Regions from separate parts of the Homo sapiens genome. Here region 2 is linked to region 1. Evidence: fine-mapped expression QTL. A gene starts in region 1. The other region holds a variant in brackets. All regions are shown on one strand. Distances are from middle to middle. Region 1 holds the start of RNF8 (ring finger protein 8). Region 2 overlaps MDGA1 (MAM domain containing glycosylphosphatidylinositol anchor 1).

Evidence for each region. PIP is the estimated chance that this variant, and not a neighbour inherited with it, causes the effect. A credible set is the group of variants that fine-mapping cannot tell apart.
Region 2: its variant is the best candidate, but not a certain one, in a credible set for the expression of RNF8 in esophagus mucosa (GTEx, PIP 0.52).

Annotation. Positions count from the first base shown.
Region 1 is chr6:37,352,563-37,355,468 of GRCh38, reverse strand. It overlaps RNF8 (ring finger protein 8), which reads right to left and starts at 1,486. Exons shown (of 8, transcript NM_003958.4): 1 at 1,194-1,486. The coding sequence starts at 1,304. RefSeq lists an enhancer at 1,184-1,233 and a silencer at 1,534-1,633.
Region 2 is chr6:37,635,602-37,638,507 of GRCh38, reverse strand. MDGA1 (MAM domain containing glycosylphosphatidylinositol anchor 1) reads left to right here. Exons shown (of 17, transcript NM_153487.4): 16 at 195-303; 17 at 1,049-2,906. The coding sequence ends at 1,140. Among named protein-coding and RNA genes, the nearest start is that of MDGA1, 61 kb to the left of the region's middle. The variant C/A (reference allele first, on the strand shown) is at 1,676.

The DNA.
Region 1 (2,906 bases):
ACTCTTCGAGCGCAGAAATTTTATTTGTCCTCATTGTACACCAAACAATGTTAAATACTCAGTAAATACCTGGCAGACTGAATTGAGGCAGTACGGCTTATAGGAAAAATCTACCTGAACACACATGAGACTCAAAATACTTCTTGAATTTACATCATGACCAACCATCCACTTTTACTGCAAAGAGAACTTTTCATACAGATTATTTCCAAAACCCAAATGGTTCCCAGTCATCACAAGCTTGTCCCTGACCCAGTTCTCCTTCTCAACCTGATTGCAATCTAACTCCCTCCTCCCTTCCCTCGTCTTTTCAAGATGCACCACGCTGGTGCATCTTGAACCGTGCCAGGAACGGTACCTCATCTTTCCCCTTAAAATATTTTTCATTTGCAACTGCATTAATAAAGACGACAGGCAGCCTCTGGAGAGAACTCTGAATACCTGCCCGACCCACCTCAGGGAGTGCCACTCGGCCGTACCGAGCCTCACAGGAGAAATGTGGCCCAGCCCAAGCCGCCCATGTTCCTCAGAGTTGGGAAGGAGGAAGACATTTCTACGTGAAAGTTTGATTGCTTTAAGGGACAAAACCCAAAATTTGCAATCGTTTTCAAAACAAACTCGAGAAAGTTCAGGCGCCGGGCCCTGCCTCGGCTTCCCGGCAGCTCGCGGCCCCCGCCACCGTTCCCCGACCTGGCACCGCGGGGCTCTGTGCGCCCTAAACGGGATCTGGCCAGCCCCCGCCCTCCCCTCCTCGACACCCCCGCATCTCCTCACGTTCCCTGCGCGTCCCTCTCCTCCCAGTCCCCGGCCCAGCTACCCGCTGACCCAGGCCTCTCTGGACGGGGCCCGCTTCTCGCCCCACAGGCCGCGGGTCAGGGCCTCCGTCCTCGCCCCAACCCTTGTGGCCCCCCCGGGCTCCCCAGAGCCGAACTCTCTTTTCTTCCTTTCTCCCACTCGGCCCCTATTTCTCCCCCAAACACCTCCCACCGCAGACCCTTCAGCCGCTCGCGCCAGAACCGCTTTCTCCCTTCTCTCCCCAGGAATCCACCCCCCCCACAGACACTTCGCTCCTCTTCCTGATGCCCGCCTCCTCTCTGCCATTCATTCAGCCCAGCAAGACACCTTCCTCCCTCCCCGGAGCCCCGCTCCCTCCAGCCCCTGCCCTCCGCTCCACAGGACCCCTTCCCCCGTACCTCGCACCCATCTTCCAGCAGCAGCCACCCGGCGCTCATCCCCACCCGCCGCAGGCACCAGCTCCGGCCACCGGCGCGGTCTCCTGTGACGAAGAAGCCGGGCTCCCCCATCGCCTACTCGACCCCGGGGGCGGTCAGCACCGAGCGAGACCCTGACCTAGGTTCTGGCTGCCTCTGTGCATCCCCTCAGCTTCCATATCTAAATAACAGACAGAAGCAATCGCCACACGCTCGCGATCGCTGCGAAAGCAGGCTCCGCTCGCCCGCCCTCGGCCAGGAAGCAGGAGCACTACGCCTGCGCAAGAGGACGGCGGCCGCCCTGGAGCAAAGAGGGTGGGTTGGGAGCCAATCCGGCCCTGGGCGGGGCGGGCGCGATTCGAGAGGTCTCCTCGCCTCACACCTTCCCTCGCCGCCTCCAGAACCATCACCCCAGTCCTAGCCGCCCCAGACTGGAACCTCTTCTCACCTTTCCTCTTTTTAAAAAAGTCATGTGAAACTATAGCCCACTTTTAAACAACTTTAAACTTTCCATCGGATTTAAGTCTGCCTAGTCTGTTGCTAAATAGTCTCTATTTTGCACGACCTACTTATATTACCGAAGTAAAAAATAAATTACACTAGGCAAATCTACAAAGACAAAGAGCACAGTTACCTGGGGCGAGGTGTGGGAGCGGGTATTGAATGCAGATGGGCTTGAAAAAATTGGAGGAAAGCGGTAATAGAAATGTTCTAAAAGTGGATTGTGGTGACAATTGTACAACTGTATAAGTTTATTAAAAAGTCATGGAAGTGTGGCCGGACGCAGTGGCTCACGCCTGTAATCCCAGCACTTTGGGAGGTCGAGACGCGCGGATCACTTGAGTTCAGGAGTTGTGACCAACCTGGCCACATGGGGAGACACCGTATCTACAAAAAAAAAAAAAAAAAAAGGAGGAAGGGAGGGAGAGAAAGGAAAAAAGAAAAAAAAGAAAAATTAGCTAGGTGTGGTGGTGCACACCTGTAGTCCGGCTACTTGGGAGGCTGAGGTGGGAGGATCACCTGACCCCGGGAGGCAGAGGTTGCAGTGAGCCGACATGGCGCCACTGCATCCCAGCCTGGGCGACAGAGTGAGACCCTGTAAAGTGAAGAAAGTGTAAACTTCCAGTGGGTGAATTTTATGGCATGTAAATTATACTCAATAAAGCTGTTAATTTTATTATTATTATTACTGATTACAGACAGGGTCTCGCCCTGTCACCCAGGCTGGAGTGCAGCCTGGAGTGGTGCGATCTCAGCTCACTGCAACCTCCGCCTCCCGGGTTCAAGAGATTCTCCTGCCTCAGCCTCCAGAGTAGCTGGGATTACAGGCACGCGCCACCACGCCCGGCTAATTTTTATATTTTTTGGTAGATACCGGGTTTCGCCGTGTCTCCTGGATTCAAGTGATCCAACCGCCTCAGCCTCCCAAAGTGCTGAGATTACAAGCATGAGCCCCCGAGCCCGGCCAATTAAAAAATTGTTTTTAAACTCAGCCTCTCCTTTGGATTTTCCATATAGTGTGATAGCTGCTGCCTGCAGTGAGTACATCCAATGGTTGAGCCCCTTTTGTCTTTTCAGTTTTCCAACACCCAGTTAACAATTTCTTTCTTCTTTCTTTCCTTCCTTCCTTCTCTTTCTTTCTTTTCTTTTTTCTTTCTCTTTTCTTCTTTCTCTCTCTTTCTTTCTCTCCTTCCT
Region 2 (2,906 bases), 280 kb before region 1:
CCGGCTTCGGTGGTTGCTGTGGCCAGGAAACACTTAGGAAAACCTTGTCCTTCTTCCTGGGGGCTAAGGATGGAAAGAGTCAGGTTAGGGGGAACTTCCAGGTAGATTAAGGGGAAAGGTGGGGTCGAGGGAGCACTCTGGTACCCAGCAGAACCTCCTCAACCCTTGCTCCTTGCTTTCTGACCCCACCCCAGATTATTTTTGAGGGGGTTCGAGGCCCGGGCTACCTGGGGGATATTGCCATAGATGACGTCACACTGAAGAAGGGGGAGTGTCCCCGGAAGCAGACGGATCCCAATAAAGGTGCAAGACGGGAAGGAGGTGGGGGAGCTGAATCTGGAGGGAGCTGTGCGTGGCGGGGGTTCCTGTCTGTTGAGGGAGGGTGTTTGGGTCTGAATAGGGGTTCAGAATGTCTGAGTGATGGGAATCATGTGGCTCTGACTGTGTGAAGGTGTGCCCCACACTCACTCAGGCTGTGTACTTGTGTAAACAATGAGAAGCCTGGCCCCCACCCTCGTGATGAGCATACTGACCTGTTCACGGTATCAGAGCGCCTCCTGTGCCTGTGTCTGAATACATCTGTGCGTACCTCTGGCTCCAGAGGTGAACGTGTGCCTTCCAGGGCCAGAGGTTTCCAATACTAACAGCTCCTACTTACTGAGCAATTACTCTGTACCAGGCAAGGCACACAAACTTGTATATGCATGTTTCACTTACCTCACAACAGTTAATCCTCACAACAGTCCTTTGGGGTAGTACACACCATTGGACCCATTTTACAGATGAGGAAACTGAGGCCCACTGAGGTCAAGTAAATTGTTCCAAGTCTTAGTGAATGTGAACCCTGGCAGGCTGAGCTAACCCCCACCCCACCCCACGCCACCTCATGTCTGTGCGGTGAGTTTGTCTGTGTGCACTGAGGCCAGTGCCCACCCTCAGGCCCTCCAAAGAGGTGGGCAGAGTAACAGTGCCGACCTGCCTGCCACTTCCTGCCCCTGCCAGAGCTGACCAGAGCCCTGGCCTGTCTCCTCTTTCTCCCCTGTTGCAGTGGTGGTGATGCCGGGCAGTGGAGCCCCCTGCCAGTCCAGCCCACAGCTGTGGGGGCCCATGGCCATCTTCCTCTTGGCGTTGCAGAGATGATGAGAGCTGTGTGGCCACCCCCCCAACCTTGCCCCCGGCACACCAAAGTGTCCACATTGTACCAAAGACTGACCCCCGCCAGCTGGGGTGCCCAGGGGCAGGGCCGGCCCGCCAGGGAGGGGGCCTGCATTGGCTGCAAGGATGAGCAGAGAACAAGGACAGAGGCCAGGCACTGAGGCCCTGGAGACAGCTGTTCCACTTGCACACACGCACACACTCATGCTCACACACACAGAGATATATTAAAGCACAAGTTTCTATCTGACCTGCCAGCACCTTCTTTACTGCAAAGACAGGGGACTTGCCTGAATGGCATCCGCCAACCCAGGGACCTCGGCGCAACATAGGCCTTGTCCTTGCTGCACTCGTGGTGTGCTTCTGACTTTACCCTGTCCCCTAAGTCAAGGCCGAACTCCAGCCTGGTGGCTTTGCCAGAAGGGAGCCAGAAGTGGGGCAGACATGGAGCCCCTCCCTTGGTCAGACTCTGGGACTCCTGAGATGGGAGAGGCAGGGATCAGAGGACGAACAGGTGGGA[C/A]TTTGCGAGCTCTGTGACTGTCCCACGTCCAGGAGACAAGGAAGGTAGGGCACCTGCTGCACACGATTCTGTCCAGAGTGAGCACTGGATGGTGGAGACCATAGGTCACCCCAGATTCCTTGACCTATTTCTGGGACACCATATTTCCCTCCTCAGTGTGCACCCTTTGAAGGGACCCAGCACAGGGTCTTGGGCCTGGGCAGTCTGAAGACTGATAACTTCCCCACTCCACCCTACAAGCAGTGGGACTCCTGAGAACACGGTTCTCTCCTAGCCTCAGCCCCCAGCTGGGTCTCAGAGGAGCTGGGGGAGCGGTGGCCAGCCCATTTTCTGGGGTGAGGCTTGACTTGGAGAAAGGCAGAAGAGACGTCCCGCTTCTGTGATTTGGTGCCCCCATATCAGACAATGAATTTGGAAGTGGAGAGGGGCCTTCATTTCTTATCTACTTGGCATGAAAGGGTGCCCTGGATAGGAGGGTGTGTACAGGGCAAAATGCCAAAAAGCACTGTCTAGTTGAAAGTTCCCTTCTCCACCCAGGGGCAGTGAAGGAGGAGGGGCTTATAGAGCTGGGATTGGTGGAGGGAGCAGGTGCCAGTCCCCTCACTCTCTGGGAGCTGTGAAAGGGATCCCTGTCCTTGGGTCCTGGGTTAGGCACCTGAGATTGACATGATGGGATCTAGATCTTTCCTCCTTGACATCACCTGAGCCCCCACCTAGCCATCCATGGGAGAGAGAAGGCCCAGCCCCTTCTAGAATGACTCTTTAGGCATGCGTGCATATGTGTGTATGTGTTTGTGCCCGTCTGTGTCTAGGTACCACCGTGGGTACATTGTTGGGCAGGAGTGTGTGCAAACACAGGTCTGTGTGTGCAATCTCACATATCTGCCTGTGAGACTGGATTGAGACCCATTCGTTTCTATGAATGTCCGTGTACGTCAGCGTGTGTGTCCACCTTCCTGAGTGATGTGTTCGCTTGTAGGGTGCTGGCTGAATAGACTCTGTCCAGCCCTGTTCTGTAGTCTCAAGCTGCCTGCGATGGCCTGAAATTCCACCTTTCATCCCCTATGGATGACGGAGAGCTTACAGATGACCCTATTGAATGCAAGCACCTTTGGTGAGGAGCATCACAGGGCTCCTTCTGGAGCATTTGGTGGGGACAGCTGCAGAGAAGAGGCCTGGAACTCGGGCAGCACTGCAGTGCCAGGAGGCAGGCGGGGAACCGAGGCAAAGG